Linked DNA regions of Homo sapiens. The protein of the gene in region 2 purifies or fractionates together with the protein of the main gene of each other region. This does not show direct contact. Each region holds a gene or a part of one and is shown on either strand. Other genes may lie near its edges.

The links.
Region 1: the proteins of C1QTNF3 (region 2) and COLGALT2 purify together in Homo sapiens (affinity purification with mass spectrometry; 3 studies listed by BioGRID and IntAct, with this or other methods). This does not show direct contact.

What each region holds. Positions count from the first base shown.
Region 1 is NC_000001.11:183,931,501-183,946,887, forward strand, and holds the end of COLGALT2 (procollagen galactosyltransferase 2), read right to left. Parts: intron 14,065-15,387; coding exon 13,932-14,064; intron 12,824-13,931; coding exon 12,696-12,823; intron 9,288-12,695; coding exon 9,081-9,287; intron 7,538-9,080; coding exon 7,261-7,537; 3' UTR 4,334-7,260; downstream 1-4,333. UniProt on the Homo sapiens protein: Beta-galactosyltransferase that transfers beta-galactose to hydroxylysine residues of collagen.
Region 2 is NC_000005.10:34,028,090-34,043,476, reverse strand, and holds the start of C1QTNF3 (complement C1q tumor necrosis factor-related protein 3 isoform b precursor), read left to right. Parts: upstream 1-263; 5' UTR 264-351; coding exon 352-654; intron 655-7,718; coding exon 7,719-7,830; intron 7,831-10,018; coding exon 10,019-10,173; intron 10,174-14,593; coding exon 14,594-14,723; intron 14,724-15,387.

The DNA.
Region 1 (15,387 bases), on a different chromosome or scaffold from region 2:
GTGTTCCCCGGGGGTGCCTGCAGCGGGAGAAACTCCTAGGAGAGGCATCAACTGACAGGAGTTAACAAAGGAGGAGCAGATGGGACTGGGGCTTGAGTGGCGTTCAGGAGAGCCAGTTTTAAGACCACCTGGATCAGCCTCCCTGTAAGCCAGTTATCAGTATCCAAGTGCTTTAACACAGGCTTCTCAGAAGAAATCATTTTTATTCCTACCATTATTTCATACCAAAGCATCATTATGTGCTACAGTTCCAATTTCTTACACAAGAATGAAAAGGGTTACCAATGCAGCAAGTTAAAAAAAAAAAAAAAGAAGAAGAAGACTGAATGATTTAAGCTGTTTCTGAATTGTTCCTGCCATAAAAAAAAAAAAAAAAAATCAAGGCACCAGTTTTGAAATGGGAGAAGCATTCTAAATGAGACTGTTAGCTTGCCCTTTGACATCGATTTCTGATCCTCATTTATTCAGTATCTAACATCCAAGTCTGCAGAAATATGTTATCTGAGAGTTTGCAGTATGACCAGCTGAATAATCAGTATATGAGGTTTCACAGGGGAGACAGACATGGGTTAGAAGTGCCAGCTTTATGTATCAGGCTGTGTGTGTGTGTGGTGAGACAGAGTGCAAGAGTGAGAGATTAAAACATTAAATTTTACTGAGAAAACAAGAAATGAGACACATTATCCCCCAGCAGCTTGGAAGTGGATGCAGTTTGGTGAGATCTGACTGCCTCGGTCTGACTCCCAGGCCACTTACTACCTTAGGCAAGTTGCTTCCCTTAGCTCTTTGCCTTATCTGAAAGATAGAGATTAATGAATAGTTCCTACTTCTTGAGGTTCATGCTGTATTAAACTACACAGCACACGTAGGGAAAGTGCGGTTCACTTTGGTGCATGATACAAGAGTTAGTTGCTGTTATTCCTGGGAAGCTTCTGGCCTAAGGGAAGTCATGTCTTCAAAGAAGCCCTCCAACCTCCTCCCGGGAGGAGCCAAATGGTCCAGACGTGAAACTCTTAGAGGTGGGGCTTCCACGTGTGGAACGGCACCCTGCGAAAAGCTAAGCCTGCTTGCTGCTCTGGGGAGAGACTGACTCACGGAGCTGGAGGGCGTCCAGGGCTCCTGCAGCTTGTTCCACGGCTGGGGTCCAAAAAGGCTCACAGAGACGGGGATGTGGGCCCGGCGCAGCCTCCCTGGCCAGCCTGCAGGCTTTGCAGTGGGCACTCTCGCTGGACGGGCTGTGACAGGAGAGGCTGGCTGATGTCAAGCAGCCCTGGGCCGGAGTGTCCCTCTCAGGGCCTGAGAGATCGGCCACCACACAGAGCTGGCAGCGATTCCCATGAGTCCCCACCTCCTTGGGTGGATTTTTCTCACCAGAAACTCTGCTCCCTGCTCCTGGGTACCCCCTTCTGTGTCTGTCCACAGTCCCTGTGTCTTTCCTACAGGAAGGGGTTCTCGACTCTGGTTCCAGAGGCCCTGTCCAGGGACAATGGAGATGCTTGATTGTGAGTTATTGCTCTTCCCCAAGCATTGGGGGCACTGGACATTTCACTTGTTCCTGTGCAAGCGGTTCAACTCAACACCAACTCAATCTCTCCCATAGTTGCAGACTTAAAAGGATAAAACTCTAAGGACAAGGCTGTCACCACTTCCATTTGAAGCCTCCCTCCTACCACACTATTTTCCCCATTGGTTCCCTCTCCTCTTTCTTGGCCTGTGCACTGGCATCACTGTCTCCAGCGATGGGCTTGCATTAGTCTCTTCTCCCCACTCCTTGCACTTCTCTCCCAGACTGTGCTCTGAGCACCAGGACTTTGCTCCGTGTGTGGTGCGCTAGAAGCTGCCTCTTTCCTCTCCCCTCGGATTCTCAACAGGCTTGCACCACTCTGTCCCTTGCACTCAACTCTGCTCATGGTTTCCTCCCCTGAGCTAGGCCTGAGCAACAATATCATCCCCTTCAAGTCTTCACAATTTATGCTAGCAATTTTTAAAAGCAGTTAAAGCCCTTCAGGCCACACCATCAAAATGCCTGGACAACTGAACTCCTGTCTGGGGGTCTGTTCCAAACTTCTCATTTCCTTTTGGGAGAAGAAACTGTCGCTGATTAATTTCCAAGCATCTAAGAACAGAGAGAGAGAGAGAGCTGCCCACTCCACTTTGAAAATCAAATTCCCCCACTAGTAAGAGCCCAGACATCCACCCAGCCACCCGTGGAATAGGAAACCCCCATCAAAGCCTTGCCAGGTCCATGGGGGCAGAGCTAGTGCTCTGTGGGCCCTAGGATTGCTCAGACATGGTAAGTTTACTAAAGCACCTGTTCCAGAGAAGCCAGGCTGGAGAATTACAGGGACGGGCATAAAAACAAACTCCATAAATTAAAAATAAAGAGAAGGCAATCCTCAGAGACGATTCTTCATTCTTTCCACTCTTTTTGAGGGCAGATGGGAGGATGGATGGCTTTGGATTGGAAGCAACACAGCTGGTGTCACAGAGGCTACTGAACAAAGATCAGCTCACATATTAGCACATCCATGGGTGGAAGCAAAATACTAGGGCATTTCAGTAATTCACAGAGCAGAAAGGAAGCCACTCTTCTGCCCAGCAACAAAGTTTAATGGAGCCATTCCACCACTTACCTTGGAACCCCATTCAGTGTCTGACAATTCTGTCAATGAATTCTTCCTGAAAGCTCACCTAAACTCCTCTTGCTCTGTCCCTGGGATAAGAGGGAGCACCATTTTTCACGTAATCTTTTGTAATATAATGTACTAAAATCTACCATCATTACTTCTCTCTTCTCCAAGCAGGTACAAAAGGACATTGTCCACACTTTGGTTCTTGTCTCAGCTGCCCTACACTGACTTAGGGCCGCGGGCTCACAGGGAAGCCCCTCATATGCCCCTCCTCTCCTGCTGGCCTTCCTCCCTCAGCTGCATTTAATTGAAGGACAGCCGGTTCCCCTGAAATAATAAACATCACCACAAAACATCATGTGGGCGTGACATTTCCAAAGCTGTCTACTCTTAGTTTTCAGAACGTGTCACCCCTTACATGCTATTTTCTTCTCATATAGCCAGCCTCATTTTAACTTTACTTTGTCATTATTTAACTCCTTAGTGAATTAACTTCTGTCAGGGAGATCACTTCTGGATCATTTCTTTCCTCTGTTTAGTTGGCAAGAATGTCTCAAAAGCACGTTATAGAAAGCCTCCTGGGAAGACACATCTTTATTTTATAGTTACTAGCGGGAGGGATTTGCTCCAATCATAAGGGAAAAACCATAAGATTCCCAAATTTGTAGCTGAGTGGGAATATTTCTTGTTTTGGACATCAACATTTTACTGGAAGCCTCTGTATTATCTGTCAAGATGGTAACCAAACTTAGAATTCTCCCAGAAATGCTGGGCTCTGTGCTTATGATGAGACAGCCCTGAGAAGGAGACAGCCCTGAGAGGGAGGCAGCCAACTTGCCTTGCCAGCATGATTGTGTCTCAGTCTTGTTTGTTATCAACCCCAACACATGCCTAACTCTTCTGCCCTACTGAGTTCCCATGAATCCCACTTTGGCCCTTTCATAGTCCTGTCAGGCAATGCCTGGACAGCATCTCCACCCACTGTGCCCAGCCCTCCTCCCTCTTCTGAACTCCAATTCATCCTCCAAAACCCAACCCAAATGTCACCTTCTCAGCAGAGCTGCCCTGACAGTCCTCCTCTGCCCATTTTGTTCATCTCTGAAATAAAACCATCCTGTTTGGCAGCCACCTGCTTTATGTTGCTCCTCCATTGGACTGCGGGCCCCACACAGCAGTAGGGACCTTACCTACTTCTCTGAGCATCTCAGTGCCCAGCACAAAGCCTGCAGCAAGGCAGTGTTCACAGCCTGGTTTTTGAGATTAGGGGTAAGCTTGATCTAAAAATTCAAGCAGTCACTGAGATCAACAAGGATTTTCTTTTTGTTGCTGCTGTTATTTTTCCCCAGGAAAAAGCTCTTTGGCCTTGGACTGGTATCACAGTATCTCAGTATCTTTTGATGAACGGATAGGCTGACCTGTAGCACAAAATGCAAGATGGACACCTCCACTCCCTCCCAGTGGGGGCTCTCTTCCATCTTTCTGTACCTTGGAATCCTTTTCAGCTTACATAACAGTACCCATCAGTTTAAAACAACCCTCACTGCACAGTAAGGGCAGCAACCACCCTCCCCTCATTTGCCATGGGGATCACACAGCAGTGATGGTTCCCCCTGACTCTGACATCCTTGGTCAAGGGCAGACCTGGTAATCTCTGCAGCGTTGGCCATTGATCAGTGCCTGCGGAAGCAATTGACAATCATATCTTTGAGCTAAGTTTTTTTTTAATTTTTCACAAAGAGCTCCAGAAGGCAAATAGTTTATCACTTCCCCACTCTGAAATAGCACGCAAGACAGATGATGCAGGGGAACGGGTGTCCACTCTTTCTTGTTCTCAGAGCTCCTGCAGCAGGCCTGAATGAACCGCAAGCGGGGCCCATGCAGCGTGTCCTCTGCAAAGTGCAGGTGTTCAGTCCACACACAGCAGCACCAGCACTGCTGATGTCACGGTTGTCTGTCCAGAAGATCCCACGTTAGATCCCAAGAGAAATCCAGACAGGGTTTAGCCTCCAGAGGCAGAGAGCGGGTGCCAGGCCCAGATGCAAAGGCCTCTATACTGACGCCCTCACATGACACTGCAAAGGTCAAATGTCAAAGGTCAAATGTCTTGGCTTAGGACTATAAGGGAGAGATAGGACAAATAATGAGGTCAAGGAACCTCTGGATTGCTGAAGAGATGACTTTAAAAAAAAAGTCACATCTGCGGCTCACAGTGTTCACCAGAAAAGAACACTGCTTGGGATTCTAGACCTGAGCAGGGAGAAACAAACCGGGCTAAAGGAGACAGAACTTTCTTCACAGTAGAACAGTCCTAGTCTAAAATGCTAGAATTTAAGTCCAAAGTCTTTTAAGAATGAGAGTTCTTAAATCTGTCAGACCAGCTGACAGGGGAACAGGAAAAAAAAAATTCTCTATTAAACAAAACACCACAAAAATCAACCCAAACTTCCTTCAACCCCAGCACCCCAGCCACCTCCCACCCCATTAAAAAAGTCATTAAAGTCATGCACACATGCACACACTCAAATATGAAAACAAAAACCAGATACCCAAGGAAATCTTAGGAATCACCTAAGGAATTTTCACTCGCTCCCCAGATGCTCTTTCTGTTTTTCTGGGGGTGGGTGGGAAAGGAAGTCACACTGACAGCTAAGTCTAAGCGGCACAATTTAGAGTTGGGTGAGTTCCCTTTCCTCCAGCGGCCTAGCTTGCTGGTCAGTGTAGAAGGGTACCCACAGTGAGTCGGGAAGGAAGGCCGAGGCTGGCGTCTGGTGGAAGGCAAGCTGCCTCTTGTCCTAAAGTGGGGACCCGCCCCTCACCTGGGGAGATGAGGCTGCCTTGACTACCTATTTGGTGATGAGACAGCTTGGTGATCACTTTCTCTAGACTCTGAGCCATGCTGTTCAACCTTAATGTGGCAATCAGTATCACATGGGCAGTGAACTGAAGAATTAGGTGTCTGGCTTAAAGTGTATCTTACACTCGTACACTAAGCTTGTGTATGTAGCACCACCCGCCTGTGGACTCTGCTCTGAAGGGCCCTCCCCATGAGTTTAAGTGTGAAGCTCAGGGTTTGGGGTGTGCACGGCCCCCCATATGGCTGCATGGTGCATGGACAGTGATGAGGAACGGTGCTGGTATGGGATGCCTGGGAGGGTTTTTCTGGAGACAAAAATTTACAGATTGAGGGCATGAGAACATAAACTTGAGGGAAACCACCATGATCTATACTAGGATGACAGATTGTGGAGTGGGAAGAAATCGTGTAGTCCAACTCTGCATTTTACATAAAATCAATCTGTGAAGAAAGCAGAAAGGACTCTTAGGGGATATCTTTTGAGAAAGGGTGTCCGCCTGGGATTCTAAGAGCTTCCCTGGTTGCTGGCCTAAATCAGGTGACCAGCCCTTTGTTTCTGACCAGGTTTCTCACCTGAGATAGAGAATCATTTGTTTCCAAATAGTTCAAATCCCCCCATCCACAGGCCTCCCCACAAGAGCCTGGCTGGGAAATTCAGGAGAATCAGATTGCCGAACCAATGTGTCCACACCCACCACTCCCCCGGGTGCCGTGGAAGTCTGCAACATCTGTTTCTCTGCCTTATCCTAAAGACAATATCTTCGCCCATTTTGTAAAATAAATAATTCAAAATATAATGAAAAAACTCTGGCAAGGATAGTTGCTGGCCTGAAAATGTGCTCTGTCTCTTAGCAGTGACTCACAGAACTCACACCTGCGGTGGGTTCCCAGGCTAAGGGGTGGAGCGGAGAGCGTGAAGCTCTGTAGCAGCGCGCAAACCCGGGACAGGGCAGGATGCACAGCCAGTCCTCACCCTTTATATATTACATTTATCTTTATAAATAGAGCATCCTGACTCGAGTGGCCATAATAAAAAAGCCAAACATTGAGTTTTTTCCCTCAAATACCTACACAAACTGTCAAATATCTACTAAATTATATCCACATGGCAAACTGGTCACCTCTATATGAGAACTCCAACTGCCATGATGGTCACAGGCCAAGTCTCAGTCGGACCCAAATACCCACCCCTACTGGATAACAGGGACTAAGATTTTTTTTTTTTAAAAAATCTACTTTTCAATAAGACTTGTGACAGAATCCTTTAAATAAAAAGCCAAATAAATATGATTTTAAGTGATTCCTGTCCCCCAAAAGTTGCACACACAAGTTTTCAATGTCATATAAAACGGACAAACTAGACCAATAAGTGTGGTCTAGTTGGCCTGGCTGCCTTGACTACATATTTGCTGATGTGACAGCTCGGTGATCACTTTCTCTTGAACAAGACTCTGAGCCATGTTGTTCAACCTTAATGTGGGAATCAGTATCACATGAGTAGTGAACTGAAGAATTAGGTGTCTGGATTACAGTTTATCTTAACAGTTTCCAAAAAACCTGTCTTTCAGCCGTCTTGGGAAATTTGGGTTGAATTTCCTTATTTCCTTCCATGGTCAAAAATATGTTAATTTCGATCTATCACACTAGATCACTTTGGTTAGATGACTGTGACCACTAAGAACAAAACAAAACAGAAAACTGGAGCAAACAGATGAATAGCCCTTTAGAAAAACCAGAGGATGTTGAACTGATGTGGGCCACACTCCCAGGGAGCCTTCATAGCTCATCCCTTGAAGGCACAGTGTCCAGGGAGGTTGGCGGTGGCAGGGCCTCTGTGTTCTTGGCATTGCTGTAGATGCGGCTTTGCTTCCGGGACTTCCAGGCATGTGTCCTATCCCAGTCGGTGGCCACTGTCTCATTGTCCCAGATGGTGGAGGTCTCCGTGTCACTCAGGTACCCCGGCTGGCCTGTGTAGTGCGTAGGGTAGATGAGCAAGGGTTCTGCAGAGAAGGCTTTCAGGTCCCTGGATTCATAATACTCCTTGTACTCGGCTCTGAAAACAAGAAGGTGGCCGGACACATGAGGGGGCGGAAAGGAGACTTACGGAACAGGGACAAAGAGTGAAGGAGGCCTCCTGGTTACCTCATGAGTTCATTTCATTATTTCAATTGTGTCATTTGTGAAAAACTTTAGCCTACAAACACAAATATTTCTTTAAAAGCTTTCCAAAGACAAGCTCCCAAGCAAAAAGATCAGGACATTTCTGACGTATTTGAATAGACTAGTTTAAAAGATGAATTTCAGGTCTGACTCCAAAAGTTAAAAAGTAAGCCCTGTTAGACCATAATGATAAATAAATACGATCACTTCACCAAAAATGCCCTGCTTTGGGATTAATAAATGAGACACCTCACATCTGGACAGCAGTGATGGGGCATGTGGCACGTGGAGGCTTAGAGGCACGCAGGCTTGGCTTTGTGCTCTAGCTCCCTGCTCACCACTCCGGTTCCAACAGGTGTAAAGGAGACGGATGACTTGGCCTCCCTCTCAGGGCTCCTGTGCAGAGTACATGAGGTGACATCTGAATGTAGTAATTTCCCTTTTGTTTAGGGGATAATGGTTTGACCTCCATGTTTCTGCTAGGACACAGAGATAAAGTCAGTCTCTGACATGTTATATACAAGAGGGCACACAACTCCATTTTTACTGAGGACAAGAGACAAAATGAACTGGTGGCAGCACAGGAAATCTCAACAGCTAAAATGAGACCATCTAGTGACGAGATCACCCAGCAACTGAGAGAAGGGGCCAAGGTTAGAACGAATGCTGCTCCATCAATGAATTTAGGAATCATTCATTAATGATTTAGGAGCTGCTGTTATGTGTAGCATTTGGACTAGGCTCTAAGGACACAGAGGCATAAGACTGTTACTGCCCCAAAGGGTTTATAGTTTATTGGGGAGATTGACAGGTAAATCATTAATTGCCACACCTTTTGATAAGCGCTAGGTCAGGGTAAGCTCCTGGGCTATGGGAGCCCCAAGCATCACACTGCCCTTCTTCCATGGACATCATGCTCAGGTATCAGGTCCACACTCCCTGAACCTCTTACACACCCCTGCGATTGCAGGAATCACAATATATCATGATGATTTGTTCATGAGTCTGGGTTCCTGACCAGATTGTGAGCTATGCAAAAATGGGTATCTCTGCTTAGCCAACAGTACCCAATGACCTGAGCCAAAGGAACTGGAAATTTTGAGGTGCTTAGGAAGATGGCCTTCACCTTGAGGTGTATGAGGTTATGGAAATAAGAAGAGCAAAGACAAGGAGGGGACCAAGCACATTACATTCAGTTCAACTACAAACTGGATATTACAAGAATCTCTGGGCAGGACACTCACCATCTCTGCCTCACCTTCCCATCTGTACAAAGGGATAAATCACCTGAGTTAGGCTCTCTTAATCATAATTATGAGAAGATCATTTAGGAAAGCAGTACAACTTTAGAAAATATCAAGTACTACCAGAAATGGAGAGCATAATTCATGAAGAGGCTGTGCCCAAGGGAAGGCAGGCAGTTCAGGGAGACTCACACGGGATGCTTGTTGTACATGACTGGCAGAAACTCATCCACTGGCAGCATCTTCCCAAAAGGATTGGCTCCAACCAGCTTCTGTGCTCCTTCCAGAGAGATGACGTAGCCCAGGGTCCAGTAGGAATAGTCGGCTTCGACCAGGTTTGCCACATTGGGCACTGCTTTCTCTGGCTCCTTTACTTGCATCCTCTTCCTACCAATATAACTGTAAGGAAATGGCAGAGGAGAAAAATTCCACCTTGACTATTATGCCATGATAAGGATGAAGCACAGCTTTGGTTTACATAGATACCTCTGAAATCCTGGACTGACTCTGTCTGTCATTAAATGATGTATCACATCCAAAAGTGGATCCAATCGCCAGTCAGGACTGCCATCTGCCATCACTGGGGCCATTTTGCTAGCTCCATTTATCAACACCCCCACTATTCCTGCCTAGTGGACGGTTTTCAAGACGGAAAGTAAGATGTCGTAAGATTAAAAGATCTTTCAGATCATTTCTTAAAGATGGGATGGGGCTTCCAGCTGTGTTTACAGAGGTTGGAAAGGCACAAAAAAAGGCCAGATGGGAGAATCCTGAGGCTGCTGTCTTCAGGTCCCCAGAGTGTCAGCCTTGGATGCCTTCTGCACAGCACTCCGAGTGCTGGTGGGAAACACAGGACCAAATAAGCTGGGGGAAAGAGTCAGTCTGCAGTGAAGGTTCTGGGAACCCAAGAGTGGCCCTAAGGGGTTCCTTTTGGGGAGGATGAATGACAGCTCCTGACAGGCATTCTCCTGCCTCACACTCGTCCAGCTGTGGCCAGGCTTCCTCCCAGACATGCTGCTCTGAGAAAGGCCCCCCAGGCACCTTCCGTCCTCCGTGAACAACTTCTACAACACAGGATGCACCTTTGGCCACTCCCATCTTCCCTAGTCTACCCATGGATCTGTGCTCCATTACTTTTGTCCGGAACCTATTGATTTGGGCTTGACTGGAGCAACCTGAGGAGTTGCCTCCTTCTTGCCTGCCAGGTAAAGCAGTACTTCCTCTATTTTGCCCTAAAACAATCTCTTTCAACATTCAAGGGATTCCCCCTTGTGAAAGCATCCCAGGATTTGTAGAACAAGTCTATGTTCAATCTTCAGTTCTTCTGAGAACAACAAACATATATCCCCAGCCACTCTCTCTTCAGATTACGGAGTCTGAGCTTCTCTCGTGTCTCATCCAGTGGAAGGGAAACTCTTATCGAGCACTTGAGAGGAACTAGAGTGATAGAGGTGCTGAGTTAATGCTCTAACTTTAATTAATTTAATTTTAAATGTTGAAGCTGTGTGAAATATATATATTTTTTCCATGAAACAAGTTCATTGTTTTGGTAGGACGACAGTTTACTTTTTTTTTTTTTTTATGGAGCCTTGCTCTGTCGCCCAGGCTGGAGTGCAGTGGTGCAATCTGAGCTCACTGTAAGCTCCGCCTCCTGGGTTCATGCCAGTCTCCTGCCTCAGCCTCCTGAGTAGCTGGGACTACAGGAGCCCGCCACCATGCCCGGCTAATTTTTTGTATTTTTACTAGAGACGTGGTTTCACCGTGTTAGCCAGGATGGTCTCGATCTCCTGACCTCGTGATCCACCCGCCTCGGCCTCCCAAAGTGCTGGGATTACAGGCGTGAGCCACTGCGCCCAGCCCAGTTTACTTAAACAGCTGAAAATTTAGCTTCTGGATTGAGAGGTGTTCTAAGTGTAAAATACATACCAGATTTTGAAGAGTTGGTACAAAAAAAAAAAGAAGGTAAACTATGTCATTAATGGTTTTAAAATATTAATTACATACCAAAATGATGATACTGTTTGGATATTTTTGTTAAATAAAATGTATTAAAACTAATTTAGTCTAATTTATTTTTACCTTTTTAATGTGATTACTAGAAAACTGAAAATGACATATGTGGCTTGCATTATATTTCTATTGAACAACACTCCCTCAATGATTCCAATGACTTGTTCTATTCTTCCCTTTTATTATTTTCTTTTCCTGGAAAGATGTAATGTGGCAATCATGAACAGCTTATTACCTTTCATGTTTTAGGTTTAAGTAACATTTGTTTCTTTTTTGTTTTAGAAAATAACAGGTACAATTTAAAACTGTTACAGTTCTTTAAGACTATATAATAGATTTTAAGGGGATATTTTGACTTGATCAACCTGTGAAATTTAGAAAACATTTTTTTCCTGTATCCTTATCAAGACAACTGTTCTTCCTTCTTGCATCTGTCGGTACTTTGTCCTGAGAAATGCACCCACCGAACTACATGTGAACGGGAACGTATGCCAGCTCTAAACCTTAGATTCTCTGGGCTCAGTCTTCTGTGATTATGAGGCTTAAGTGAAGTTGCCTTTATACAAGTCACGTGGACATCAAGTAGCTTCCAGGCCTGTGAGGCCTTAACCACAGGCTGCGGAGCCATCCATTGAGAAAGGCTGAAGTGCAGCGACTTCTGGAGGATATAGGAAGAAACAGTGATCTCAAGGGACTGTGCAGAATGCCAAACCAAACCACATGACCACATGACTGAAATCTGACAGGGCATAGGTGTCTTATTACACAGTGACGCATTAGTTGAGCCATTGCTAGGTTTCTTCTGAGCTCAGAGTGGCCCATTTTCTGAGGGAACAAGTATTCCACCTGGGCCCACAGTTAAATACCGCCTGTGGGTGGGAGAAGCAGGGACAGCTCCTCTGCTGCAGCTGCTCCAAAGAAGCAGGCTCAGAGTTGATGAATTGCCTTTGACACACAGCTGGGAGCAAACACAATGCTTGGGAACTTTCTGCTTCATTGGAGAGAAATTGAAAGTGTCATTTGTTTTAAAAAGAAAATGAGAGAGAGAAAGGAGGAGGCAGAGGAGGAAGAAGAAAAAGGAAAGAGGAAGGGAGAGAGGGAGAGGAAAAATGAAAGGGAAGGGAAGGAAAAATGAAAGGGAAGGGAAGAAAAAAGCAGAAGCCACTCAATTCCCAGAGAGTAGACAAAGAACATTAACTAAATGTCAGCTCAGAGCCAGCACTCCCTTGGTGAGCCTGGTTTTCCTGCATCAGCCTCAGACCCTTCCCCAAATCTAGTTGTCCATGTTCTTCATGTTTGTGCAGCCCCATTTCCCAACAGAGGAGCTCCCTGGCTGACCCTCTAACCTCCCACCTTCTCGGAAGCTGCAGAGGCAACCTGCTGTCCCGGGAGCTGAGTCTTAAATATGACACAGGACTTTAGAGCTTGAATAAATGGCCTCTTCTCCAGCTTCACACCCACTCCATGTGCCACGTTAATTGAGGGTGGGATTTCTGCTGTGCTCCTAAGTAAGTGCTCAGTGCCACACCTTGGTTCTGTCTGAAGGTCCCTGATCTGCAGGCCGACTCCAGGTCTCAGACAATCTTCCACAGTTTCCCACCCTGAAGAGTAGAAGGATGCAAAATCCAGTGGCTAACCTCTACCCATTTTTATTTCTGAGAACATTTATGGAAAGAAAACTAGATAAGTGGAAGCTTAAGCTGTATCTCCTACTGGCTGTGGAGGTGGGGCTCTCTGCGCATTGGAAAGGACTGAGTGCCTCTCAGAGCCCTCTCGTAAGATCATCTTGTCACTCACATCAGTTCCCAGTCCAGCTGAGCCTGGTCAATGTTATCCATCAGCTTCATCAGCTTCTTCTTAAACTGATGCTCAAAACGCACATCGTCTTCAATTACAAGAGTCTTCTCTAGCTCTCGATCAATTACCTGCAAAAGTCATCAGTAGGAAGATACCCTATGAAAAGTTTGAAACCCAATTTTTATTAGATAAATAAGTATTAAAAAGTCACGAGTCTAGTAGCACAGATTCATAACTGGAATCTAAGCAAATGGCCATCAACAGTAGAATAGATAATAAACTTTGGAATATTCACAGCAGTGAGGATATATGATCACAATTAAACGCAACGTTATAGGTGAATCTCCTAAATGTCATGTTAGGAGAGTACACATACTGCATGATTCCATTCATATAAGGGAAAGTACAAACAAAGGTAAAGCTATTCAATGCCTTTAGAAGTCAGGATGGTGACTGCCCTTGGGGACTGATGACCAGAAGGCAGTACGGGGTGGGGGGGTGCTTGTGGGATGCTGGTTACCTGCTTCTGGATCTGTGTACTGATTAACATGGGTGTGTTGTTTGGTTTGTGAAATTTCCCTGAGCTGTATCTTTTGATCTATATCTTTTTATACCTATTTATCACATTTCACTTAAAGTTTAAAGAAAACAAAGGCAGGCATAGACTGGATCATTAAAAGAGAAAGTGTTCAAGGGGCCTTTCTTCAGGGACTTTCTTTTTGGTTGTGGAAACTGACTGTTTATCAGGAACCCCACACACCAATATCTGCTCCAGATATGTCTTGATCTGTAAGACAGGGGTTCCACTTCTGGCTCTGCCACTTCTTACCGGGTCAAGCTACTTAATAATTTCTTCTTCGGTAAAGGTGGTCTGTCCTTCCCAACCCACCTCACATGACTTCTGTGTGATTTCTTGTATAAAATCACTTAATAAGTGATGTCATAATAGGTATAATAGAAGGCATTCCTGCTAATGATGATAATGAATTAATAAGAGTGTGGCACACAGGACATGGGTGTCTCCCCCGTCACCACCCCAAGTGGCACCAAAGCTACTCCTCCTTGCCCCTTTGTTGCTGGTCTTGGGTCAGAGGGAGACACAAGGCAGGAGCAGCTCTCATGCACATTTCCAGAACAGTTGCGGGCTCACTTTACATCTGGCCCTAACTCACCTACGATAGCCTGCTTTCCTTTCTCCTCATCATAAAACTGCAATCTGAATAAAGCATTATTTACCTCTTTCCAGACTGAGTAGTGGCTGAGAAAGCAGCCGATTTCACCCCTTGTTAGAGGCCTGGAGGAATAGGGATCTCGATAGCCAGGCAGCATTTCAATATTCAGTGCCTTCAGCTGGCTTGTGTTGAGTGCCCTGCATCACATAAAACACGTCTGGAGATTAACAAGTCAAAGGTCCCCACCACAAAGGCCAGAGAAAGAGAGAGTTAGTTCTGCAAACACCCCTCCCCCACACAGACAAAGACAGAGAGGCTTCCCTTTATTCCTTAGAAGTTCCTCCAGGCTAATGTGTCACACTAGTATTATGAGGTCTGGGAAGACAAGAGGGTATCATATTTTTGTGTATCCCTCATAGTGCCCAACATAGTTCTAAGCATCATCAGTTTTTTGACAAGATTTAATAAGTACACTCCTATGGAAATTAGTTAAAGTACTGCAATAATCCAAGGAGTGTTTGATCAAGACCTACTGCTGAATCTCTGTTAACACAGTGAGCTTTGTGAAGTTCACAGCTGCCCTAATCCTAACCTGTTCACCCCAGCCCTACAAAAGCCTTGAAAACCAGTAGCCTCACAACTAAGAGAGCGGCAAACCCCACCAACCCAGAAGCCACTGGCAGGGACAAAATGGACTGAGACTCCCTTAAAGACCTGCCCCCAGAAAATAATCTCTATTCAACCTGTCTAGTAGCTCCTTGAAAAGCTACATTCTCAGAGCTTGTCTTGATTTGACCTGACTCAGAGTTCATTTTCTGTGAACAGCACTATCTGCAGGTCATTTGTCAAAACCCATGAGCAACAACTGTTTAACATTACAGCTGTTTGAGAAGCATTATCAGCTGATGCTAACAAGAAGCCCACCAAAAAACTTAAAAGGAAAAACCAAGGAATAAGAGGTCCATAGGGAGTTTGATTTGCTCCAAAATATCCCTGAGAATCTAGAAGGCCCCAGGCATATTCAGGGCTGTCCACACGCCCAGGAAAAACTTGAGAAGTCCCTAGTCTCTCACCTCTGGCTGACCTTAAGGATCTGGAAAAAAATGTAGTGAAGGCAAATGAATAAAACACTGCAATGAAGGAAGAATTTGGCATAGTAAGTTTTAAAAATTAATACAACCATGTGGTATCTATAAGAGGCAGCCTTTAGATTAAAAGACAAAAATAGGTTGAAAGTAAAAGAATAGAAAAAGATATACCATATAATCAGCAATGACAAGAGAGCTGGCAGAGCTATGCTAATATTGGGCAAAATAAATCTCAGACAAAATTCATGCTAGAGCCAAGGAAGGACATTTTTTAATGATAAAAAGGTTAATCTGGGCCGGGAGTGGTGGCTCACGCCTGTAATCCCACGACTTTGGGAGGCCGAGGTGGGCAGATCAGAAGGTCTGGAGATCGAGACCATCCTGGCTAACACGGTGAAACCCCATCTCTACTAAAAATACAAAAAATTAGCC
Region 2 (15,387 bases):
AAGCAAACTGCTGGACACATGCTCTCTGTTCCCAGCTGGTTGTGTATGTTTTCTTCACACTTCAACAGAAACGTGCCAAGGTGTGACATTTATGAATTTCGCCAACTGGGAACTGTGCACACAAATCGTTCTTGCTTGTGGTGTGGGAAAATGATGAATGGGGGCTGTTCTGCCTGGGGAGGAGGGCTGCTGTCACTCTGGCATGCCTACAGCCTTATTTATTACACACCAAAGTATAAAACCACTCCGCCGCTGCAGCTCTCAGCTCCAGTCCTGGCATCTGCCCGAGGAGACCACGCTCCTGGAGCTCTGCTGTCTTCTCAGGGAGACTCTGAGGCTCTGTTGAGAATCATGCTTTGGAGGCAGCTCATCTATTGGCAACTGCTGGCTTTGTTTTTCCTCCCTTTTTGCCTGTGTCAAGATGAATACATGGAGGTGAGCGGAAGAACTAATAAAGTGGTGGCAAGAATAGTGCAAAGCCACCAGCAGACTGGCCGTAGCGGCTCCAGGAGGGAGAAAGTGAGAGAGCGGAGCCATCCTAAAACTGGGACTGTGGATAATAACACTTCTACAGACCTAAAATCCCTGAGACCAGATGAGCTACCGCACCCCGAGGTAGATGACCTAGCCCAGATCACCACATTCTGGGGCCAGGTACTCAGAATTCTCTTCTAAGGATTTTTGTGAAAGCTTAATGAGTGTTGTTGTTGTTGTTTTGTTGTTGTTCTTTTTTTGGCTAAGATTCTTAGAATCAATGAATGCTTTCGAGAAGTTCGCTAAGCTGCTTGTGAATCTCTTTCTGGATTGCTCTTGGGTACAAGAGAGACTGTCGGTCTCTGTTAGAAAATCAGCAGAGGCAGCAATGATGTGATGGGATAGTGGCCGTAGCATCACCCCATCAGAAAGGGGAACCTGGCCAGCCAGCTTCCTGCTATGCTGGGACTTGATTTCCTTCTTGCTCTGTTGGTCCGGAAAGGAGTGCTGACCCATGCAGACAGATCGGTCACTGTAGACAATCATTTGTTGTTCTTAAGAGAATTGGGCTTTCTTCATCCCTTCCGGCAGGGAGAAGCTGCCCTTTGAGTTTGTCAAAAGCAATCAAAGTTTTTTTACTTTGATTTGTGAGTATACTGTGACATTTCATGGCAGTCTTGTTTATTTGATTTATAGCATTCTAGATTGTTAAGCCTCTCTGTTCAGCCTGTTTTAAAAAGAATTAAAGAGTTAAATAAAAAATAAACTGTTTGAAATGCATACCTTATAGCATGATTTGATGCCTGATAATCACAGAGGACTTGATCTATTTCTCAGGTTATAAATTCAGCTCTAAGGAAATATCTTTAACTCTTGGTAGTATGAGAGTGAGTTAAGATTTCAGTATAGTGAATTGCAAATTGGTGAAACTCAATGTAATTTAAAATATTAAGTACAGGAAGAGACATATTTTGAATTACCCTCTAGACATCTAGTATGCTGAAAACTGTCAGAGGGGGCAAGAAGAGTTACTTTGAGTTATATGATATTTGAACATACAGGTTTTTACTACAAGATTTGATTACTTTAATGCATTAAATAGGACCTGAAGAATTTCTTGTAATTGAAATCTAAATCCTTCCTACCATGGATTCAGAAGTTTGGGTTGGTTGTTTGGTTATATGGTCAGACCAAGATCACACACAGAATCAATTGCAGATTTGAAACTAACCCAGAACTTCTAACTTGACCACACAAGGCAGTTGCCCAAACCATTCTGTGGGGGATGCATCCAGAGAAAATTGCTTCTTTAAGGAGCCACGGAAGAAATGATAATCTCTAAATATGATCCTATCTTTTGAAAACCACTTTTAGAGATTGTCTATTCATCTGATAATCTTTTGGCTAAAGGGTAATGATTAGCACTAATTTGTGTGTGGGTTTTTGTTTGTTTTTGTTTTGTGGTGAAGATATTTTCACTTGTGTCCAAGACTTGATCTGGACTTTCCATTTCACACATGGTATCCTTCTTGGCCAACAGATGGTATCTTTCCTGGCCATGACAGTGTGATTCCCCCAGAGGAAGCAGAAGGAAGTTAAAGGTTGTCTTTGGTCATTATGTCCTGACAACCAACACCCAGCAGGCCACTGAAATTCAAATCACATTTCTCCTTCACTCTACCTTCTAGGTTCCTGAAGTATTTTCAAACAAACCACCAACAGGAGATATTGAGGATATTTAGAGTTACTGACATTCTGGAAGTTTTCACTACAACTCCTCTACCAACGGCTATGGAAACCACAGTTTGCATTTAGGATTGTGCTATGTTCTTCCTTCTTTCCCTACTTCCCCTGTCCCTCTTCTTTGATCGTAATTCAATTTTCCTCTTATTCATTCAGTTCCCGTGTATTTCTTGTGCTTCTACTTTGTACCAAACTTTAAAAGGGGGGCCAGGGATATATAAAGATAAATATGCCTGAGCTCCCATGTCCAAACCATCCTGAAGGGCTGTAGTAGAGATAAATTTTTGTTAATTAAATTAAGTTTAATTAAATGCCATGTGTTAAATAAAGTCAGTACATGAAAGGCAATTGGGCAAAAGTGTCAAAGTACTGATAGTTTTTGAGCTGGATCTTAAAAGATGGTATTAAAAGAATGACTATCCACAGCAAATTAAAAAAAAAAAAGTGCTGCAACAGAGACTGGAAAGCCTGTGAGGAGTTGGCTGTGGCTGAAGCTCCTGGGTTGGGGATGCAGGGGTGGGGGTTGGGGGGACGACGGGACATTACACGACTTTAGTGCCAAGAAGGATTCTGCTAGCTGGTTTAGGAGCTTAGATTTTGCTTTGCTAGCTAGGTTTTGTTTGTTCATAGCAGGACAGTGAGGTAATCAGATATATGGTCTGGAAAGATGCTCCAGCTGTGGGTTCATGGTGGAGTACAATGGCCAGAGATCTGGGGTGGGCAGACCTGGGCTCTTTTTTCCTGGTATTTTCTTCTCTGTAGCCTCTTTTTCATTCACCTTTGTCAATCTCCCCTCCTTCTCCCGGATACCCATTTCTCCCTCCTCCCACTTCCCTTCCTCTTCTTTCTTTTCCCTTTTTTTGGGGCAGGAGGTTTAAAAAAAGGAGCTATGACTCTCCTTCCTAGAAGTCACTTACTAGTAGTAGAGCTCAGTTCTGCATCCCTACCCCTAGGCCTCCATCTGCAAAATTGATGGAGCATTTCTTAGAGACAAACTCTTTCTCGCATGCTGCAAATTTACCTGCCTTTTGCATACAAATTTGTCCTGCTTTTGGGAAAGGGGATGATAAACAAGGAGGTCATAAATAGCAACTACCTACATGTAATTTTCCCTTACCTAGGAGAAAACTTCTGAATTAACACATCCCTTCCAACTTGTTCTAAGAGTTCCAACAAAAGACTCAACAATGCAAAAGCATTGCTCCATTCAACTGAACTTTGAAAGACAAGGCCAGAGGAAGGAACGTGTAATGCAATGCTGCTGAAGGGTTCTCACGAGGTGCTCGACTAGTAGTAACCAGAAGTCTCTCACTGTTCTGGTGGCAGCTCTGTGCCCTCAAAGTGCCCTCAAGTAGCTTGGTCTTGCACTTCCAATCCTAGTTGGCTCTAGCATTGAGCAACTTCATCTCCTGGAGCTGAATTCTTGTGCCTAGATACTAAAAACAAAATGTTTCTAAATTATTATTTGAGGCTTTGGAAAATACTTTAGTATCTTTGCATTGTAGAGCTGGAAAAAAATGCGAGACGACTGTAGTGGAAAAGTGGGAAATCTTCTCTTGTTTCATCCTCTGAAGATTCTCTGAAAATTAACTGTCCAAAGGCAGATCAATAGGAGAAACACACATACCGCATGGGGATGATTTCCCAATAGCCCAATGTGGTATGCATGCTTACACACCCTTCCACGTAGGGTAGCAGGGAGTTGGGGAATGTAGAAGTAAATTACAAAGTTCCTCTGAGCCCTGAGGGAGGTGCTGTTACCAAAAGTGAATCCACACGGGTCTGCAACAACCTCAATTCTTGGCTCCTCAATTCCATTGAGGGTCATAAGGCGGAAGGAGAGACCAACGCAAGTTTTAGAGCAGGAATGAAAGTTTATTAAAAAGTTTTAGAGCAGGAACAAAAGGAAGGCAGGTATACTTGGAAAGGGCTAAATGGGCAACTTGAAAGACAAGTGCACGGTTTGACCTTTTGACTTGGGGTTTTTTTACGTTGGCATACTTCTGGGGTCTTGCGTTACTTCTCCCTTGATTCTTCCCTTGGGGTGGGTTGTCCACATGTGTAGTGGCCTGCCAGCACTTACTTGGGAGGTGAGCATGCATAGTATGTTTACTGGAGTTGTAACCATGCTCACTTGAGGTATTCTTCCCTTACCAGCCAAATGCTCCTAGGAGGTCATTTGCCAATTAAACTCTGCCATTTTGCCTCTTAATGCACATGCTTGAGCCCACTTGCGCAACTCCTGAGATCTTATTGGGAAGCTGCCGATAACCAGTTTCAGGTTTTTGCTATCTTTAGGAAGACTGCCTTTACCCGGCACTGGCTGCAACCAATTATTATTTTAGAGAAACAGTTAAAAGCCACTTGATCATCACCTGATGATCACCTGATATTCCCGGTCAGGTGGAGCCCTCCCCTACCCTGCTCATGTCTGAGTAGCTACCTACTGTAACAGTATCAAGAAGGGAAGGGAGAGAAATTTACTGTGAACAGAGGTTGTCTTAAAGCTTCCCAGATTATGGCTCCTAGCTTCCCTCAGGAAATAGAAAAAAAGCCTGTCTGAGCCTTGTGATGACTCCCAGTCTCTTCAGTTCTCCAGTGGTTAATCTTTCCTGGTTATTTGATGAGATTCCTAAGGAGGGGGTCTTAAGACAATTGCATTTCTTTTGGAAAGATGCTTTCTTAGTCAAATAAAGAAATTCCAGACAGAGTCCCTCCCGGCACTTCTGGAAAGAAGATCAGAGAGACTGGGAGGCAGGGAAAGGTCAGAGAGAGACCTTGGATCTGAGGCTTCTCTCTCTTTTTTTAATAAGAGATTTGCCACAAGTCAGTTTTCCCTGTGATAGCTCTTCCAATACGTCTTTCTTAAAACACCTAAGTTCAGAAGGATCATGAGGCCCCTCTCTCATGATCTGCATTCATACTGAAAATCAAGATCAAGCAAGCTTTTGTCCTGCTCTGCAGAGCCTTCCATCCTCCCTGTGCTCACCTTATCTTCGTGGCTTATTTCTGAAGCCTTCCATTTCCAAAGCACTCAACACGCTGAAGCACGTATTTTGAAGAGTCATTTTCTGTGCACCAACACCACCTCATCCAATCCTCTGATTTAATAGCCAAAAACAAAACAAACAAAAAAAGATGTCTGGAGAACAGCGACTTCTCTAAGGTCACACAGCACCATGATGGAAATTCTGGTTTCAGTCCAGTGGGTGTTTCAACATTCCTAAGCATCTCAGTATTTCCATTCCATTCCTATATCGATGGTTCCACTTGAGGATTTTCCCTCCTTCCCCTCCCTTCTCCATCCTTAAAATTCATCATTGGCAGAGCCCTGGATTTTCTGAGGTTTAAAAGGCTGAATTTCACATTGGCAAAACCATAACAGGAAATATGGAATCCTTCCTTCTCAGATTACAGTTTTGGATTAGAAGGTGGGGTGTGCCGTGGTGTCTTTGACTTTCCAAGTGTCCTGAAATCCCTCAGATAAAATCCCTGAGATGAAATCCCTCATCTCAAACCAATGGCTTTAGTTGACTTTTCTTCCCCTACCAATTTGACAGAAGGTTTTCATAGACTCTAGTTCTTGTCCAGGTTTGAGCCTGGTAGACTGAAGACAAGACTAGGAGTTAGCTCTAAGTTATAGCTCCTGATCAGGCAAGACTTGGGTTCTGAGAGGTTGCAGGAGAATGCTTGTGCTACAGATTCTGTTCTGTGTTTTCCCTGAATAGCTTGGTGGAAAATTTTAGGACAAAGCAGTGAGAGAGTGAGAACAAAATTCAAGCCCATTTTTTATTAAAGAAAAGAAAGTAAGGTCTAAGTGTTTAACTGTGTGAAGTTTGATCCAGTTCTCTGCTTAAATTTTTAGTGACAAATACAACTTGAATTTTAAATTCTTTTTTCCTCCCTCTGTGTCTCCTTTTTCTTTCTCTTCTTCCCTGGCCTCCTTTTTCTCTCCTTTGCTTCATTTTTTTCATGAATCTCTTAGCAACAACATGCTGTTTTCAAAAGACCGTTGAATTATAATTGATGTCTAGGAACATTTCCACAAGTATTTTGTATGACATAATTAATAGGCAAGTTGCCAGTTTAGATGGGAGTTCAAATTTCATAAGCAACTTTAACTCTTCTGTCAATCAACTTCCACTAGGTCTTTAGCTCTTTGACGGTAAACATACATTTTAGAAATTTATCTTTGTATAAATAAGCATTTCACTCAGTGTCATACTTGAGCATGTTTAGTACCCATTAAGTGCTTATTAAACATTGGTTCAAACAGTGAGATAATCATTTCACAATTTTTTTTTTTTGAGACTGTGTCTTGCTCTTGTCGCCCAGGCTGGAGTACAATGGTGCTATCTCAGCTCACTGCAACCTCCGCCTCCTGGGTTCAAGTGATTCTCCTGCCTCAGCCTCCCAAGTAGCTGGGATTACAGGCATGCACCAGCATGCCTGGCTAATTTTTGTATTTTTAGTAGAGATGGGATTTCACCATGCTGGCCAGGCTGGTCTCCAACTCCTGACCTCAGGTGATCCACCTGCCTCGGCCTCCAAAAGTGCTGGGATTACAGGCATCAGCCACCATGCTCAGCCCAATCATTTCACATTTTAAAGTGGAATGTGTGAAATAGAAATCATGTTAAATAGTTGATTTACTGATAAAGTTAAAGTTGTTTCAAGATGTAGATAATTAATAAAAATGTATTGGACTTATAGTTAATAGCAATGTATTATATTCTTGAAAATTGTTAGGAGTAGATTTTAAGTGCTCTCTCTACAAAAACAGTATATGAGACAACACATATGTTAATTAGCTCAATTTAGTATTTTACACTGTGTACTTATTTTATAACAACATGTTATACGTGATAAATATATATATAATTTCTAGTTGTCAGTTAAATAAGTAAATAAATGTATTGGACTAAAAAATACTTTATTTCCTTCGTTTTCTAAGACAATTTAAGTGTGCTATGGCTGTTTGAAAAACTAGTGTTACTATTCAGAATTTCTAAGAGATCTTAATCTAGCTCTTAACTCAGTATCATGGATATAGTAAGCATTTAAAAACAGTGCTTAAAGTGGATAATTCTTGTAATTTGAGGACCATCTACTCAATTTAGCTACATCTGGGGCTATGGCAGTTGGAAAAGAGAAAAGGCTTCCAAGTCCACTTCTGAAGGAGTTTCTTCCTTTGCTGTTACAGTAGCAGCAGGAAGGCACTTTCCAGAAATAGGACCCAACTTCCCACCCCCACCCACACGCTTTTCAAAGAGCATCTTCCTCTATTGACTTTCTTGTTGCCTTTTCCTTTGATCATCAACTGACCTTAGCTACTCCCTGACCCTTTGCCATTGATATCTCCACCCCATCCCATCTTTTGTGATCTTGCTGTGATTCGATTGGAATTAAGCTTACCTAAGGGCCAAGGCCAGTGGAAATTTAAAAATCCTAATTGCTCACAAGTACCTTTTTTTCTGAAGCTTCTCTTTCTGTCTTTTTAGTCTCCACAAACCGGAGGACTACCCCCAGACTGCAGTAAGTGTTGTCATGGAGACTACAGCTTTCGAGGCTACCAAGGCCCCCCTGGGCCACCGGGCCCTCCTGGCATTCCAGGTAAGGATGAGCAAGACATACTGTCAATCTAATTGCAGCCTGAGCTAAAGTAGGAGCAAAGGGCAAACCTTAATAATTTGGGATCACTTCTGTGTGATCCAAAGGATCCGCTAGACTCTTGGCACCCTGGAATACCAGGTTCATAGGCTGGGAGGCTCCTCAACAGCATTGAGTCCGAAACGACCAGGTCATAGTCTTCGTTCCAGTATATCTGCCACAGCATGCTTTATGAAGGGCAGAGTAGAGCCAAAAGCTTACTGCTCTGGGCTACAGCCATCTCAATGCCAGTCACTGAGCTGTGCATCCTTCTGTGTGACTCTAGGTCCAGCTAAGTGCTTCTTCCTCCAGTCTCAGGATCTCTCCATGTTCAGCCGTCTCTCAGTTGACTCTCATGCCACTCTTGACCTCATGGAAACATTTTTAGGCTCCAGTACCATGTAGTGGTATGGGGAATGCTCTGGAGCTACATGAGACCCCACTAGACCAGCAATTCAGTCATCTGTACTGTGCCAATGCCACCAGGCATAGGAGAGTGCCGCGGGCCTGCTGGTACCCTGGGTCAGTCCAGGAAAGGGTAGCCCAGGTCTCCTCAATATGGGGCTCCCAAGCCTATCTTGGGTTTTATTGTCTTCATCCTCAGGTTAATCCCTAGGGTAGGACCTCATCTCAGGGTCTGGCCAAAGTCCACTGGCTCTTCTGTGACTTACTCTCATTGATGTTAATATTTATCAAATGTGGTTCAATTTTTTTTCTACTTTTGAGTAGCTTCTTGCACAAAACCAAATTTACAGCAAGAAAATCTTATGTTAAACTTTAAACTACACTTACTGGCTTGGAATCTATGTCATTGGCCATCAAGGACAGCAGCCAGCAGGAGCAATGATGTAGGGGTAGGGCCTACTTCGACCCTTGTAAAATCTTCTCAGGTCTTAACTCTTGTGAGGTTACACAAAAGATTGGCCTTGGTTAAATGTTTTCTAACCAGGAAATGGCTTTGTCACTGAACACATTAATTTGTAAACACAGTCAAAGTTCATCCATTTGGTAGGGTTGTAAGCCTGGTATGATAACCAACCAAGGGTAGCATGCAAAATGAACAGCAAAAAGCCTGAAATTTAGCAAATATTAAAAATAAAGAAGAGGTGTAGAAATTGTCTCTTGTTGGCAAAGGGAAAAGTTAAAATTGTTTTCCAACTCTTGCTTTCAAAATCATTGCTGTAATTTGTTTAATGAATGAGTTTACCTTTTCCCCAGTTATAAAAGTGATGTGTTTTTTGTAGAAAACTTCAAAGAAACAGAAAAATATACAGAATGACATGAAAATTACTCATGTTCCACATTTAGAAAAGAACCTCTGTGAATATTTTTCTGTAACTTATTCTTGTCTTTTTTTCCCTATGGATATAATACATAAACACATATTTTTCCAAACAAAGATAGTATCATGTTATTTCTATTTACTCATAACTTTCTTTTGCCTGAAACAAAGTCTGGCTCTTTTGTCCAGGCTGGAGTGAAGTGGCATGATCCAGGCTCCCTGTAGCCTTGGCCTCTTAGGCTCAAGAGGTCATCCTGCCTCAGTCTCCCAAATAGCTGGGACTACAGGTGTGCACCACCACTCCTGGCTAATTTTTTAATTTCTATTTTTGTAAAGATGGGATCTCACCATATTGCTCAAGCTTGTCTCAAACTCTAGGGCTCAAGTGATCCTCCCACTGTGGCTTCGCAAAGTGTTGAGATTACAGTTGTGAGCCACTGTACCTGGCCACTTATAACTTTAAAATCTAAAAATATCATGAATATCACTATATCATTAAATGTTTTTCTTCAGCCTTCTTTTTTATGACTATATAACATAGTTTCTAGAATATGTCATGCCCTCCTAGTATTGGTGATTATATAGGTGGTTTCCAATCTTTGCTATTTTAAATGATAATGTGATAATCAGAATTGTACACAATTTTTCCTCCAAGCCTCGCTTCAAAGGATAAACAGGCTTTGGAGCTTTAGGGTATCTAAGGCTTCTTTCAGAGCCTATTGCCCTATTTAGATGATGATACCCCTTGGTTATATTTGGGATTATTCTGAATGGTCCCCTTTCATAATTGAGTTTGGATAGTATGTCTAGAAATGGATGGTAAGTATGAGTGACTGGGTTTTCTCATGTGATGATGTCTGGTTGTTTAAGGAAACCATGGAAACAATGGCAACAATGGAGCCACTGGTCATGAAGGAGCCAAAGGTGAGAAGGGCGACAAAGGTGACCTGGGGCCTCGAGGGGAGCGGGGGCAGCATGGCCCCAAAGGAGAGAAGGGCTACCCGGGGATTCCACCAGAACTTCAGGTAAACCATCCTCGGTACATCTCCTGGTGGCTTTCCAACCTGCCTGACCAAAAGGGGCCAGGAATCAGGATGTTCGAGCGCTTCCTCAAGTCTTCCCCAATCCTGAGTAAATCTGAGTCTCAGTTTGTTCATCTACATCACAGGATGTTTGCATAAGGCCCATACTGTCCAAAAGGAGGACTTAGATACTATTCTTAGGGAGGAGAGACATTTATGAAGGGTGAAATCTAAGTCCCTCATAGAACCAAATCCAAGGCAACCCTAAATATAAACTTATCTCCTATTTTCCCAAATAAGATGTTTTAAGAATGTAATAAGATGTAATAAGGGTTTGGGCCAACTTGAATGTATAAACATTTAAGTATATAAATGGAATGATGAAATGTCTAGTTATAATATTGTATTTATTAACATTGTTATATTTACATATACTAATCCATACATAAATATTGATATATATTGTTTTCTCTCAACTCAGATTTTGTGGTATAATTTTTGTTTATTTTTTGAAACAGAGTCTTGCTCTGTTGTCCAGGCTGGAGTACAGTGGCACGATCTTGGCTCACTGCAACCTCTTCCTCGTGGGTTTGAGCAATTCTCCTGCCTCAGCCTCCCTATAGCTGGAATTACAGGCATGCATCACCACACCTGGCTAATTTTTGTATTTCTAATACAGACGGGTTTTTGCCATGGTGGCCAGGCTGGTCTCAAATTCCTGGCCTGAAGTGATCTGCCTGCCTCGGCCTCCCAAAAAAGTGCTGGGATTACAGGCTTGAGCCACCACACTTGACCTTGTGGTATAATTTTTACTTGAGCTTTTCTTGTCAGAATCTTCTTTATCAATGGAGAATTTCAGTTTTGAGCCATCCACTCAGTGTTCCAGACCAGATTACATTCATTTCAGCATAAAGTTTAAAAAATCAATTTATGAGGTTAAAACTGTACATTTTTTTCCAGGCTCAAGTACCCATTTACCTATTCTTTCTCTCTCTTTTAAATGATCATTAAAGTTCTTATTGCCAACACGATCTTAAACTTGTAAATGTGAGGTTAGGTCACAAGGAAAATTACTAACTTTGGGTTATTTCTGGAAGGTGGAGGAGGGCTAATATTTTGAAATGGATCCCCTCTGGGGGACTTCTATCAGCATTGAAAACTAGCATTTTTTAAAAATTAAGTTTCTTTCTGACTAGTGTCTTCCCAAAAAAAGTAACTTGTGGATAAAAATAAAGTAACTGAGATAAAGTACTGCAACATGAGAGATTTTTGAAGAACTAGACTATAAAGCGATTCTTGCCTGAAAGATCAATTAGGGGGAAACTGTCTTTCATTTGTGCGTGTATGGTGGTGGTTTGACCCTGTATAAGTTCCATCATTTTTCTGGGCCTTGGTTTCTCAAGTTTAAAATAGCTTGAATAGTTAGTGTGTTACTCTCATTTGTGGGTTTTGCAACTTTTAAATGAAAGCCGTTTTGTTTTGTTTTGTGTGTGTGTGCACAGGCTGGAGTGCAGTGGTGTGATCTTGGCTCACTGCAGCCTCCACCAAGGTTCAAGCGATTCTCTTGCCTCAGCCTCTGGAGTAGCTGGGATTACAGGTGCGTGACACCATGCCCGGCTAATTTTTTTGTATTTTTAGTAGAGACGGCATTTCTCTATGTTGGCCAGGCTGATCTCAAACTCCTGGCCTCCAGTGATCGGCCTGCCTCGGCCTCCCAAAGTGCTGGGATTACAGGTGTGAGCCACTGTGCCTAGCCAAATGCTGTTTAATAATTTCAGCAACCTGGGATCCATGTGCCAATATAAATTTACAAACAAAAAGGCTAGAGATGCCACTCAGCCAGGTTAAGGTATTTAATAAGACAGAAGATAAACATCTCAAAGCTAGACACTCTAACCCATAACCTATGAATGGTAAACCACGGAGAAGGGGCCCTAGAGTAGCCAGTTTGATAGAGAACATTCTGGGCAATTATTAAATTTGTCCCATCAGCTATTTTACCCTAAAATCACAATACAATCATTTGGGTCTTACACAGATTGTGAAGGAGGGAACTTCACATTCTTTGAAGGTCCCAGCAAATTAAAGAATTTATTAATCTAACTTACACTCAGTTTCAATGACTCATTTGGACGAAGGATTAACTTTGACTTTCACAGCTCATTCTTCAATGGTGGTTTTAAGCAAAAGCTTTTCTTTTCTTTTCTTTTTTTTTAACTTTTATTCTAAGTTCAGGGGTACATGTGCAGGTTTTTTACATAGTTAAACTTGTGTCGTGGGGATTTGTTGTACAGATTATTTTATCACCAGATATTAAGCCTAGTACCCATTGGTTATTTTTCCTGATTCTCTCCCTCCTCCCACCTTCCATCCTCCCATAGGCCCCAGTGTGTGTTGTTCCCCTCTATATGTCCATGTGTTCTTATCATTTAGCTCCCACATATACATGAGAACATGCAGTGTTTGGTTTTCTGTTCCTGCATTAGTTTGCTAAGGATAATGGCCTCCCGTTCCATCCATGTTCCTGCAAGGGACATGATGTCATTCTTTTTTATGGCTGCACAGTATTCCATGGTGTATATGTAGCACACTTTCTTTATCCAGTCTATCATCAATGGGAATTTAGATTGATTCCATGTCTTTGCTATTGTGAATAGTGACAAAAGTTTTCTTGACAGGCGGAATTGTCTCAAGGCTTTTAAAATTATTGTTAACATTTTGTATTTTGAACTTCAACCCTGTCTTTGGATATTAGTAGTATAGAGGTGGCAACAATAGTAGTAGTGGTGGCAAGAGGAGGAAGAGTACTACCCCATTCTCCACTTAGGGGATATAGAAATTTGAGGCCCAATTACTAATTACTCAATTGCCAAGTGACAGAATTAAGAGAGGTGGACCTTAATCTCATATCTTTGGACCCAAATAGACAGCCTTATTCCCAAACTCATAGAGCCTCTTGGTTGCCACCGTGAGCAGGTTTCTCAAGTTAATTCTCTTTGCTGATCTTTTACTGATTAAGCAGAGGCTTTCAAAGTCCCTTAAAAGATTACACATAAAGTATTTGTAACCATTCCCAGAAATGGGTGTTGACCATTAAATGACTTCTTGGATTCTCCCATCTCTAAACTTTACAGTTCCAAGATGACATTTTTTCATCCAAAATCATGCTGAGAAATTTTTGCTGTTCTAATATTCAAAAAGATTGCTAATTTTAGTAAACCATTTTTCTATATTTTAGATAACTGCAAACACTCCTTTTTACCTTTTCAAGGTTATTTACGTAATATCTTTTCACTGTTAAAAAAAATTAGAAAAGTTCTGGGCCAAAAATAATAAAACATGCCAAGAGATGATTACTGTTAACATACAGTTATGTAACTTTTCAGATTTATGCATACTTATATACATGTTACTTTTAAATATGATGGGAACATATATACATATTATTACTTTATTTCATGAATGACAATCTATCCTAAATGTCTGTTCATATAAATAAATACAATCCTATAGCTTTAAAATTAGTATCTTTTTTCTGAATATAAAATTAATACATGCTAACTTGAAAATTATAAGTGTAATGAAGAAAGGAAAACTTTCCCATGAAACTTCTACCAAGAAAGACCTGCTATTAATAATTTCAAGAATATTCTTGCAGATATTTTTCTGAATTGCCCACACAATGACTCCATCCACACAGACACAGTTAATAAAGGCTGGTATCAGATAATAATGATCTTGTGTTGTCTACTTTTTGGGTAAACAGTGTATTGAAGATATTTTCTCCTTTTATACAGATGCACATTTAGATCAGCATCAAGAATTCTCAAAGTGTATTCAAAGAATTAATTTCATTAGAAATTAATAGGCTAGGCACCATGGCTCACGCCTATAATCCCAGCACTTTGGGAGGCCGAGGAAGGTGGATCTCTTGAGCCTAGGAGTTTGAGACCAGCCTAGGCAACATAGTGAGACCTCGTCTCTATAAAGAAAAAAAAAAAAAGAAATTAATAGGTATCTTTTCGGGAAAAAATAATGCAGGGTTACCAAAATTAAAATGTTTGGCTATAGGGTTTCTCAGGTCCTTGAATTTGCTAATGTGCATTTCTCGGCTATAAGTGGAAAATTTCATATAAAATTTTCTGGTATTATTTGATAACAGAATTTTAGTATTTCAAAAATCATTTGAAAGACAAATAATCTTTGAAACCTATGTTCAGAACTGTTGATAGACATTGTCAATCTAATGGCTGCATAGCATTCAAATGTTGGAATTACCATAATTTATTTGTTTCTCTCTCCATAGATTGATGTTTATTCCCAATCTTGCTGTTATGTATAATGTTTAACAAACTAATCTGCATAAAAACTTGACTTCTTTAAGATAAATTGCCTATTTATTGACCAATAATTCTTTCCTTAGATTGCATTCATGGCTTCTCTGGCAACCCACTTCAGCAATCAGAACAGTGGGATTATCTTCAGCAGTGTTGAGACCAACATTGGAAACTTCTTTGATGTCATGACTGGTAGATTTGGGGCCCCAGTATCAGGTGAGATGGAAACATAGGATGAAGATTGAGTTAATCAATGTAATAATAAAGACAATTAAGGAAGGAAGGAAAGAAGAGAGGGAGGGACGGAGAAAGGGAGGGAGAGAAAGAAGGAGGAAGGGAGTAGGAAATAAAGAATGACATTAAGGTAGTTATTTTTTTTCTGATTCACGTTAAACCAAACAGCTCATTTAGATTTCTGTTGGATTTCAAAGTAAACGAATTAGAATCTGAAAAGACAAAAATAGTTTTTAAAATATGGCCATAGTCATTAATATTATTAACTCTGATTTAGACTGAGCTAAATAATTCTTAAGAGGACATACTTACCTCTGACTTTAAAAGTCCTTAAAACATAATTCTCAGTTTAAATGTGTCATAACTGTTTCCTCCCCCTGCCACCACCTCAAGGAGTGCCTGATCCTATTTTTTTAATTAAAAGAAATTGAGCAGGTAATACATTTACTTATTTAAAAAGTTAAGGCCCGGCGCGGTGGCTCATGCCTGTAATCCCAGCACTCTGGAAGGCCGAAGCAGGCGGATCACGAGGTCAGTAGATAGAGACTATCCTGGCTGACATGGTGAAACCCCGTCTTTACTAAAAATACAAAATATTAGCCGGGCGTGGTGGCGGGCGCCTGTAGTCCCAGCTACTCAGGAGGCT